3 separate regions of the Homo sapiens genome follow, and all the other regions are reported to be linked to region 2. The links are microRNA targets in miRTarBase. Many come from high-throughput screens and were not tested one by one. Region 2 holds a microRNA gene; each other region holds the end of a gene's coding sequence.
Evidence for each region. Region 2 holds the annotated microRNA hsa-miR-6837-5p (ACCAGGGCCAGCAGGGAAUGU, at 2,322-2,342, shown strand). A microRNA usually pairs through its seed, bases 2 to 8, with sites in the 3' UTR of a target mRNA and lowers its output. Matches are read on the target gene's strand: a 7mer-m8 pairs with bases 2 to 8, a 7mer-A1 pairs with bases 2 to 7 and ends in A, and an 8mer does both.

Region 1 (3,000 bases), not on the chromosome of region 2:
CCCAGGCTCTTTACTCTCCCTTCCAACCCAGATCCTGACGTGTGCATCTCTTTTGTGCAGGAGAATGTGATCCGAGAATTTAACTTAAATGAGCTATACCAGCGGGCCAAGAAACTATCAAAGGCTGGAGACAATATCCCTGAGGAGCAGCCTGTGGCTTCAACCCCCACCACAGTGTCAGATGGGGAAAACAAGAAGGATAAATAAGATCCTCACTTTGGCAGTGCTTCCTCTCCTGTCAATTCCAGGCTCTTTCCATAACCACAAGCCTGAGGCTGCAGCCTTTTATTTATGTTTTCCCTTTGGCTGTGACTGGGTGGGGCAGCATGCAGCTTCTGATTTTAAAGAGGCATCTAGGGAATTGTCAGGCACCCTACAGGAAGGCCTGCCATGCTGTGGCCAACTGTTTCACTGGAGCAAGAAAGAGATCTCATAGGACGGAGGGGGAAATGGTTTCCCTCCAAGCTTGGGTCAGTGTGTTAACTGCTTATCAGCTATTCAGACATCTCCATGGTTTCTCCATGAAACTCTGTGGTTTCATCATTCCTTCTTAGTTGACCTGCACAGCTTGGTTAGACCTAGATTTAACCCTAAGGTAAGATGCTGGGGTATAGAACGCTAAGAATTTTCCCCCAAGGACTCTTGCTTCCTTAAGCCCTTCTGGCTTCGTTTATGGTCTTCATTAAAAGTATAAGCCTAACTTTGTCGCTAGTCCTAAGGAGAAACCTTTAACCACAAAGTTTTTATCATTGAAGACAATATTGAACAACCCCCTATTTTGTGGGGATTGAGAAGGGGTGAATAGAGGCTTGAGACTTTCCTTTGTGTGGTAGGACTTGGAGGAGAAATCCCCTGGACTTTCACTAACCCTCTGACATACTCCCCACACCCAGTTGATGGCTTTCCGTAATAAAAAGATTGGGATTTCCTTTTGATTGCGCGTTTGTGTGTTTCTGTATTAGAAAAGCCTGACAACTGCAGAGGAATTGCCCATCTTAAGGGCAAAGGCCATCCTATTTGGTTTCACCAAATGCCGGGCATTGATCCCCAGGACTGGCAAGAGTTGGAGAAGTCTAGTTTCCATAAATCTAGAATAGCGGCCACATGTTGTTAGGTGGTGGGTTTACTCTGGGATTGGCCTGCGGTTGCCAGGGAGGAGAGTTTGGCGGCAGATGGTGGCACACAACATTTAGCGCCATGCAAAGGTACAGAAAAGATTGCGCGAAGCGAGGCTAGCAGTCGGACCTAGTCTCCGCCCCTTCCTGCTGTGTTCACCATCCCAGCGTCCCCTGTCCCCTCCACCCGAAGCGATGGGTGGTTCCGTCAGGCGCTTCCCGCACCTTCCCGCTCCCTGCTTGCAAAGTGGTTGTGCCCCAAGGTCCGCCTCCAGGCCACGTGGGTGCTGCGGGCCAAGCTTTCCCTTCCTTTGAGAGAGGTTTCCGCTGTAGGAGCAGAGCTTCCGGGCTGCGCTCTTCGTTGCCCAGTTTCCGCTCAGTGGTCGCGTCTCCGCCCCCCACCCACCAGTCCCGCTGCATTCTCGGCCGGGCTCTAGGCGCCATGGCTCCCCGCGGGAGGAAGCGTAAGGCTGAGGCCGCGGTGGTCGCCGTAGCCGAGAAGCGAGAGAAGCTGGCGAACGGCGGGGAGGGAATGGAGGAGGCGACCGTTGTTATCGAGCATTGGTGAGGGGCCTGGAGAGTAACGGGAGAGAGGGAACAGTGGCGCCGGGGGGGGCCAGGGGCCCCGGTTTCTAACCTCTCCGTCTCTCCCTAGCACTAGCTGACGCGTCTATGGGCGCAACGCCGCGGCCCTGAGCCAGGCGCTGCGCCTGGAGGCCCCAGAGCTTCCAGTAAAGGTGAACCCGACGAAGCCCCGGAGGGGCAGCTTCGAGGTGACGCTGCTGCGCCCGGACGGCAGCAGTAAGTGGGGACCTGGATGTGGGGGAGAGGGACGTGGGTGAAAGGGACGTGGGTTCCGAAGACAGGAAGCGCTATTCTTAGAAACCACGGCAGTCTCATGACTTCAGAGACGTGCTCGTGGGTTCCGAAGTATTGTAACTTCGCTTCATTCTGGCCTTTCAGGTGCGGAGCTCTGGACTGGGATTAAGAAGGGGCCCCCACGCAAACTCAAATTCCCTGAGCCTCAAGAGGTGGTGGAAGAGTTGAAGAAGTACCTGTCGTAGGGAGATTTGGGTAGAAGCCCTCATGCTGAGGTTTGAAATGGGAAGTGGGGGGCGCGACCGCTGTTGAGGAAGAGAAGGCATTGATCTTGGTGTGGCTACAAGTACCCACCTGGCGTGGGTAGCTCACGCCTGCAATCCCAGCACTCTGGGAGGTCGAGGCAGGAGTGGATGGCCAACACAGGGAGACCCTATTTGAAAACAAAAAACAAAAAAAAGACACAATATTGTTTTCTGTCTAGTGTGCCCTAAGTGGAATTTATGTCCTTTGGGAGACTGTAGTTGACTTGCCCTGGGGGTATGGACAAGTTTTCCATTTGGAAGTTTATTTCATGTTACTTCATTTATGCTTATCCCTACCCTCTTCTGTTTGGTTCTTGGGTGTTCTGTTACTGTCCTGTGTTAACACTGCATTACAATACCATTAAATTTGGTTACAAGGATTTTGACCTTGTCTTTGTCCCTAGTGCTTCATACAGTGCTTTGGCATGTTGTTCTGCACTTATTATGTTGAGTGAGATTTGGAGGAAGGATGCAATCCTTGAGCTTCAGGGTTTGTGAGTTCAAGGGTTGGGGAACATGTCTTCCTCAGTCCTTAAGATTGCCCAGATCCTTTCTCTAACCTTATTTCCCTTCTCATTTTTGCAGCTTTGTGTCCCTGGTGATGTTGGAACATTAATGATGGAACATGGCCAAACTTCAGTCATGATCCTGAAGCCATGGTTTCTTCCCTGCCAGAAATGAAGGTTCAGTTATGAGGCAACCCTCTAGTAAGGCATTGTAAAAGTTACTGGATTTGGTTTAATAAAAGTTGAAATAAAGTA
Region 2 (4,037 bases):
CTGCGCCCAGCCCAAAGTTCTTATGAATAATTAATCTTTCAGGAAAAGAAAGCCATGGCCCCATGTCACCCATGGAGAGATAAGGCTCTGCTAGATAGAAAACTTGCTCATGGGTACCTGTCCGTGAGGGGCTTGGCAGGTTCATGGCTTTAACTGTGTGATTTCATGTCGTGTCATTCCTTTGTGGTTTCTGATAAACACAACCTGTGGTAGTCTGTGTTTACCAAAGAGTCTCAAGCCTGGAAGGACCTGCTGCCCTACCCACCAGGCTTCACTGGAGCCAGGGCAGACGTGCACAGGAGTGGTGGGCAGCCTTCCAAGGGGCCCAGTGTGTGTATTTCTCCGACTTGCTTCTCCTTTTGGGTGCTCTGGGTTCAGGAATATGTAGATATGTTTTGTCTCTTCAAATCCATATACCTAGTGGCCAGGTGAGTATTTGACACATGAATGTATAGCAGTCATTGGGAAACTCCACAGCTCATGTTTTCCTCATAGTAGATGTGTGCTCCCATCTCCATGGCTTTGTCCCTCACAACCCCCACCCCATGGTAAGTCAGGCCAGTGTCCTCCCAGCTGCAGAGCTGAGAAGGCTGCACAGTTGCCTACTGAGAACCTGCCTAGTGGGTCAGAGCAAAGTGAGAACGGGCCTGTGCCCACCCACAGTGTTACTGTCAGCCCAAGCTCTTTGGGATGTAGTGGAAAGTCATGGTGGATACGGTGAGGAGAGATGGAACCCAAGGTGCTGGCTACAGAGCTCACTTGTGTTTCGTTTCAGGGCTCTCTTTACCTATGAAGGCAACAGCAATGACATCCGCGTGGCTGGCACAGGGGGTGAGTATGACTCCAAATGGACTCAGGGACACCAGGAGGTAGGAGGGTGACGACGAGGGGTCAGCGCACTCAGCTGTCTTGGTCCACTGAGCCACATGGGGCTTCCAGTGCTCACTGGCCACTTCTGGCAGGCCTTAGGTTTCAGATATGTGTAAGTGAAAACATTCCTCCTTGGTTCTCCTTCCCTCTGGGTGCAGGGGAGTGCTTTCTCTTTGTCTACTTGGGGAGAGCTGAGAGGGAAACAGGCCTCTCCAGCTTGTGGGCAGCCTGCGTTGGGAGCTGCGGTGGGAAGCTCACCAGTCCCAGAACTGGTGCTGGTGGAAAGAAAGTCCACAGACATATCTTCTTCTCCCTTTGTCCTGCCCTGGTCTTGTGCCGAGTGCTTGCAGGGGCCCCATCCTCACTGGGAGAGGCAGTATCACTGCAGATAGTCACGGGGGAGGCTCTGGAGGTCTCTACAGGAAGGACAGGCTCTTGGCCAGCACAGAGCAGAGGTTGTCAGGGTAGGCTTCGTCAGAGTGTGACCTGTGGGCCCCTCAGCTGACACCCGTGACTGCTCCTCCTCCAGAAGTTGCCTGACCCCTCCCTCTGTCCTGAGCTGGACATGGCTTCATTGTTCAATGAACACTCGGAGTGGTTCTCCACGGTTTGATGTCTGTTGTTGGTAGAAAGCCCCTTCCTTTCACAATCTTTCTGGGAGGTGTCCCCTTTCTAGAAGGATTGCCATTGAACAGTAGACATGTGGTGTGGCAGGTGACTGGGAGTTGCAGAGATCAACAACTTGAGAGTTTCCTGTCATCCCCAGTGGCACAGGACAGGGCTCTGCCACAAATGCAACAATTTGCTGTCCCCAGAGTGGGGCTCATGACTGCCTCCACTCATACGGAGCCCTGTAGATGAAATACCTGATCAGCTCTTCCTCCTTATAACCTGGAAAAGTTTGTGAGGGCTAAGCCTCAGTGTCAGGGAGAATTGTTTAGAGCTGCCCACTCCTGTGCTCCCCCTGTCCCCATCACCCTCTCTTCTGGAGTCTGAGGACTGAGCCAGTTACGCCACTGCAGGATGTTCAATCTGGTCTGGCCGTCTGGGTGGCCCTGGAACTTGAGCAGACACAGGTGCAGGCAGTGGTGACTCTACAGGCCCTGCTATTCCGGGCCCTTTTGCAACGTTGTGGCAACAATAAAATTTTGACGTAGCCATCCTCCATTTGGAAGTCTGGTGGCTGGTTTGCCGTGGAAATGACCCTGTTTTTATTTCCAGAATTACCTCTGGGTTTAGAGAAGTGGTTTTTAAACGAGTGTGGGTAAAAAAAATTACCTGAGGTACTTGTCAGAATCGCAGACTTCTAGGTCCCACCCAGCTCTCATCAATCAGTTTAGTGAGGGTGGTGCCCAGGACTCTGATTTTAAACATACCCCTAGAAAGATTCTGATACAGGTAGAGGTGAGAAGCCCTGGTTTAGAAGCAGCTCGGCCTCCCTTCATGGTGGGACCAGGGCCAGCAGGGAATGTCAGGGCCACCCCTGACCTTCACTGTGACTCTGCTGCAGAGGGTGGCCTGGAGGAGATGGTGGAGGAGCTCAACAGCGGGAAGGTGATGTACGCCTTCTGCAGAGTGAAGGACCCCAACTCTGGACTGCCCAAATTTGTCCTCATCAACTGGGTATGTGGAGCCTGTTTCATCTAGGTGTGACCCAGGAAACCCCATTGTCTTCTTTCCTGTTTTGACTTGACTTCAGGAACAAAGTGTTTTACTGGCATGACTTAGTAGATCAATAGAACAGCTCTGAGCTGGTGAATGAGCAGAATAGTTGACAGATTCATTGTGGCCCAAAGAATAACTGTGGCTTTGCTATGCAGAATTCACCTTCCAAGCCTAGAGTTCTTCCTGCAAAATGGATTAAAAGCAGTCACAGGGAGTCCTTGCTCCGTGCTCTTGAGGGTGGTTGTTCTGATGGAGTAGAGAGCCTGAGGGAGTGTTTAGGAGCCTGGGAGTACAGGGACAGGGCCTCCTTGATCCCTTGGTGGGGATCAAGAAAACTCTTGAAGGCTGGGTGGGGTGGCTCACACCTGTCATCCTAGAACTTTGGGAGGCCGAGGTGGGTGGACTGCCTGAGCTCAGGAGTTTGAGACCAGCCTGGGCAACATGGTGAAACCCCATCTCTACTAAAATACAAAAAATTAGCTGGGCATGGCAGCGTGCACCTGTAGTCCCAGCTACTCAGGAGGCTGAGGCAAGAGAATTGCTTGAACCCAGGAGGCAGAAGTTGCAGTGAGCCAAGATTGCGCCACTGTACTCCAGCCTGGGCCACAGAGCAAGACTCCATCTCCAAAAAAAAAAAAAAAAAGAAAATTCATGAAATGCCCCCACAGCGAAAGCCGGTAGCCATCCTGCCCAGGGAGAATCCATGAGCCCCTTGGAGGCATGGGAACTTACCTCACCCATGTGATGCAGTCAGAAGAATAGGTTCTGCTTTGGGGGTTGCAGTTTTCTCTTTTCTGGGACACAGGGTAGATGTTGGGTCCCCAGGGAAGGGAAGTGGCTTTGGGGGAGGCCTGGGTCAACCTGGGCATCCTTGTGTTGCAGACAGGCGAGGGCGTGAACGATGTGCGGAAGGGAGCCTGTGCCAGCCACGTCAGCACCATGGCCAGCTTCCTGAAGGTAAGGCCAGGTGAGGCCCGCTTCACTGGGAACAGGCCTCACAGGCTTGAGGTCTCGCAGGTTCCTGGGTGCGAGCAAGTGGGAATCAGAACTGGAGTTGGGAGTGTGCTCATAGCTAATGCTCTCTGCCTGCCTTTGAGGGCATGACCAGAGGCTGCTTCACTCTCGGTCAGTGAGTGCATGGGAGGTCAGGATGTTGCCAGGGCCACCTACAGGCCTGCCTCAGTGGGGCAGGATAAAGGACTATGCTGGAGCTGGTGCCGTGAGAAGGGTGGGCCCTGGTTCTGTTTTGTTTTATGATCCCTCTAAACAGTTTAGTAATACCGTCAGGATTTGGAGGAAGGGGAGAGTGCCCACCATCTTAGCACGCATGTGCCCTTTTGATGCATTCCTTTCCAGCCCCCTCTACATGGAGTTATGTCAGTCCTATAATAGAACCTTTTTAAATTTTAAAAACTATTTGTAACAAAAGCATTTGTTGGTCACTTGTCAGGTAACTTTTTGCATTTCTCTGGCAAAGGAGACTCAGAATTTTGATTTCTCGT
Region 3 (3,000 bases), not on the chromosome of region 2:
TTCCCAAGGGCCACCCCGCCTCTGGCTTTGGTAACTCTGGAGCAAGGGCTGTGAGCAGCGCTGAGCCCTGCTCCAGGTCACCTGGGGCCTCGTCATGGCTCACCTGTCAGCTGTGTAGCCTTGAGCAAGCCTCTGAGCCTCACCCTGGCAGCCCTGCCTTGCAGCCCTACAGCAGGGTTGCAAGCCTTGTCCCCAGCCAGGAGGCAGGGAAGACCAGAGGGGAGGAAGACTTCCTCGGAAGTACTTTGTCCTCAGAGAGTGCCGCGATCCTGGTGGGCGGGGGCTCCAGCTTGGCCGCAGCCTCCTTGCTTGTCCTGTTCGCAAGCCAATGCTGCAAGCCCCATCAGCGATCCTTGTCGCCTTATCTGCAGGTGCAGAGGACGTGGTGATGGCGTTTTCCAGGTCGGAGACGGAAGACCGGAGGCAGTAGCTGCAAAGCCCTTGGAACACCCTGGATGCTGTTGAGGGCCAAGAGATCTGTGTGGCTCCTGGGCCGGCTGAGTGGCAGCAGCCCCCCTTGCCCCACCTCCCCCTTCCCCTACCCAACCCTGCCCTGCCCCACCCCACCTCACAGCTACTCAGTGGGGCTGGCATCAAGGGAGACACCAGTGGTGCGTTTATAATTGGCTTAAAGGGATGGACTTGTGATTGGCTGCAGGAAGAAACTTTTTTATTTTTTAAATCTTGACCAACAGAAACCTTTTATTTTTATTTCTGACTCTTATTTTTTAAAAAATTTGCGCCTCGGTATCTGGCTTCCCTGGAAGCTCTCCGAGCTCTGGTGCTTTAGTTAGGTCATTTTTTTAGAAATGTGAAGAGGTCTGATTGGCTGCTTAAACTGGAAAGGATCTGTGATTGGCTGGTTAATGGGAAACGGTTTTTTTCTTTGGCTGCAGGTGTTCTGCTGATATCAACAGCTTCCCTATTTTGAATGCAGAAAACAGGGTCTGGGACATTAGTCGTTATATTTGACTTGAAAAGAAAGAAACCAAGTGCGCTTTGCAATATTTATTACACAAAGAACTTGCTGCTGCCTTCACATTTGGGGTTTGTGTTTGATTGGCTTTCGATGCGTGTGTTTGGTTTCCCATTGGTTCACCTGTGACTCCTGTTGCCATGGATTCACCCCCCTCTGCTGCCGGCTCTGGGCCTGAGGGTCCACCTGGAGAGTACATTTGCTTTAATGAGTGCACCTGCCTCCACCAGCAAGGGGACCCCGAGAACCCTGAGCAGGGTCCACAGCTGGAAAGTTGGGCCCCTGAGGAGCTTTGTGTCGTCTTGAACGAGCAGCCCAGGGCCTAGAGGTAACCGTTAGGCGGGATTTATGTGCACTGCCTGCATGAGCTGGCAACCAGCCAGCGTCCCTTGGTGAGAAAGGGATTGCTGAGGCACCGTCCAGGCCCCACCGGCCAGGCCGCGCCCAGCAGAGGCGTACTACCCAGCTCTGTCCTCTTGGCCATCCTTCTGTGTACCACTTCCTGAGGCCTCATTTTGGGGGTCATCTTGGAAAGGGGAGGAGCTTCTCCCAGTGTGAGACCCCAAAGACTCTGGAGGTCATCTGGCGGAGGTCTCTGGGAGCCCAGAACCCACATAAAAGCCCCAGCTTGGCTCACAAGGCCCAGGAGACCTCCAGCTAAACACCAACCCCTGACCTACCCCAGCCAGGCTCCTACCTGTCTGCTGCCAGCACAGTAGGTCCCGGCCAGCTCTGGAGTTCTCTCATCGGAGGCCCATGCCCTCCACTCCACTGCCTTTGGAAGGGTCTCTCTCCAGGTCAGCCTGGAAGGGACAGTATCGTTTGTTTATGAAATGCCACTGGGACAGCTGGCTGGGCCTTCACCAAGCAAGTCCCTTCAGACTGGCCCTTAAGCCAAACTCAGGCCCAGAATTGCAGTTCAGAATGGCAGTCCTGGAGGCAGGGGGTGAGGGGCAGGTCTAGTGTTCCTGCACCAAACCTAAGTCCTTCCACCTGCCACCCCCTTCCCTGGGAGGGAGGTGGTCCTCCTATCTCCCTGGCTCACTGGCAGGTGTGGGATCTGGGGAGAGCGGCTGGAGAAAGATGCAGTCCTCAGGAAGGGGGCCGCCACCCTCCCCTATGCTGGTAGATGCTGAGGCCCCTAGGTGCCCAGGGCCAGTGGGACCCTCTCAGAACCAAATCTTTCCCCTTTCTCGGGGCTTGGGGCTCGGGCCGTAGGGGCTCCTGAGTGTCATGAAGTGCACAGGAGCCAAATGACCGAGCCCTGGAGAGCCCCATGGTGGGTAGGTGGTTCGTGCTGTGCTCTGGCACCATCAGCCTGTTCCAGAAGGAGGATTCGAGCATCAGGCTAAGACCCTGTGTCCTCCACCATGCACTCACCCCTAGCCCTGGTTAGCTGACAGTCAGCTGTGGGGAACACAGCTACAACCCTACCCTGGCAGGGACCTGAGAGCATCTCAGGAGGGGCAGCGCATGTGTGCATGTGCTGTGTGAGTGAGCACACCCGTGTGCACACTCATACACATGTGCACACACACGCACTCTCCCCGCTCAGGGGCCTGGAGGTCTGGCTGAGCCCCTGGGGAAAGGTGAGTTCTTTCATCTCCCTCCTCCAGGTCGGAGTGCCTGGAGTCAGGTGTCGAGGCCACATTGCTGGCTGCCCCCTCTTTGTAGCTCCTATAAAGGGCCCACACCTGGTGGATACCTGGTTGAGTGTGTGGTCTCTGCCCCAGCCTGTCCTTGTCACGATCACAGGCCTTGCTTTTGTAACAATGATGACCCCGGCCTGTCTCATCTTCTGAAGAGGAAAAGTCAAAGTGTTGCTGTGGCTCCATATTTCAACTAAAAATATATCTGTTGGAGAAAGAAATTAACAATAAAGAATTTTCATAGGTTCGTGTGTGAGCTGAGCTGGTTTCTCCCTCGGAATCAGGCGCTCTGACTGATTTCCCCACATCACGTGGGCTCTGCTGCTGCGGGGGCCCCTCCTTCCCAGGGAGGCGCAGCCAGGAAGGACAACACCA

Region 1: the mRNA of TMX2 is a reported target of hsa-miR-6837-5p. Seed matches in the 3' UTR shown: 7mer-A1 at 851-857.
Region 3: the mRNA of CTNNBIP1 is a reported target of hsa-miR-6837-5p. Seed matches in the 3' UTR shown: 7mer-A1 at 450-456, 7mer-A1 at 759-765, 8mer at 2,238-2,245 and 7mer-m8 at 2,362-2,368.

The regions. Positions count from the first base shown.
Region 1 is chr11:57,740,039-57,743,038 of GRCh38, forward strand. It overlaps TMX2 (thioredoxin related transmembrane protein 2), which reads left to right. Exons shown (of 8, transcript NM_015959.4): 8 at 61-935. The coding sequence ends at 207. SELENOH (selenoprotein H) reads left to right here and starts at 1,453. Exons shown (of 4, transcript NM_170746.4): 1 at 1,453-1,679; 2 at 1,771-1,916; 3 at 2,079-2,209; 4 at 2,825-3,000. The coding sequence starts at 1,558. The coding sequence ends at 2,179. The region is part of intron 2 of TMX2-CTNND1 (TMX2-CTNND1 readthrough (NMD candidate)); the gene reads left to right. RefSeq lists enhancers at 1,155-1,274, 1,595-1,644, 1,795-1,964.
Region 2 is chr7:44,049,450-44,053,486 of GRCh38, forward strand. MIR6837 (microRNA 6837) reads left to right here and starts at 2,317; the gene lies at 2,317-2,380. DBNL (drebrin like) reads left to right here. Exons shown (of 13, transcript NM_001014436.3): 2 at 776-831; 3 at 2,381-2,493; 4 at 3,418-3,492.
Region 3 is chr1:9,848,148-9,851,147 of GRCh38, reverse strand. It overlaps CTNNBIP1 (catenin beta interacting protein 1), which reads left to right. Exons shown (of 6, transcript NM_020248.3): 6 at 372-2,872. The coding sequence ends at 430. It overlaps CTNNBIP1-AS1 (CTNNBIP1 antisense RNA 1), which reads right to left and starts at 2,830. Exons shown (of 3, transcript NR_199045.1): 1 at 2,682-2,830; 2 at 1,674-1,779; 3 at 994-1,162. It overlaps LOC105376717 (a long non-coding RNA gene), which reads right to left and starts at 483. Exons shown (of 2, transcript XR_946952.3): 1 at 104-483. RefSeq lists enhancers at 926-975, 1,056-1,195, 2,330-2,831.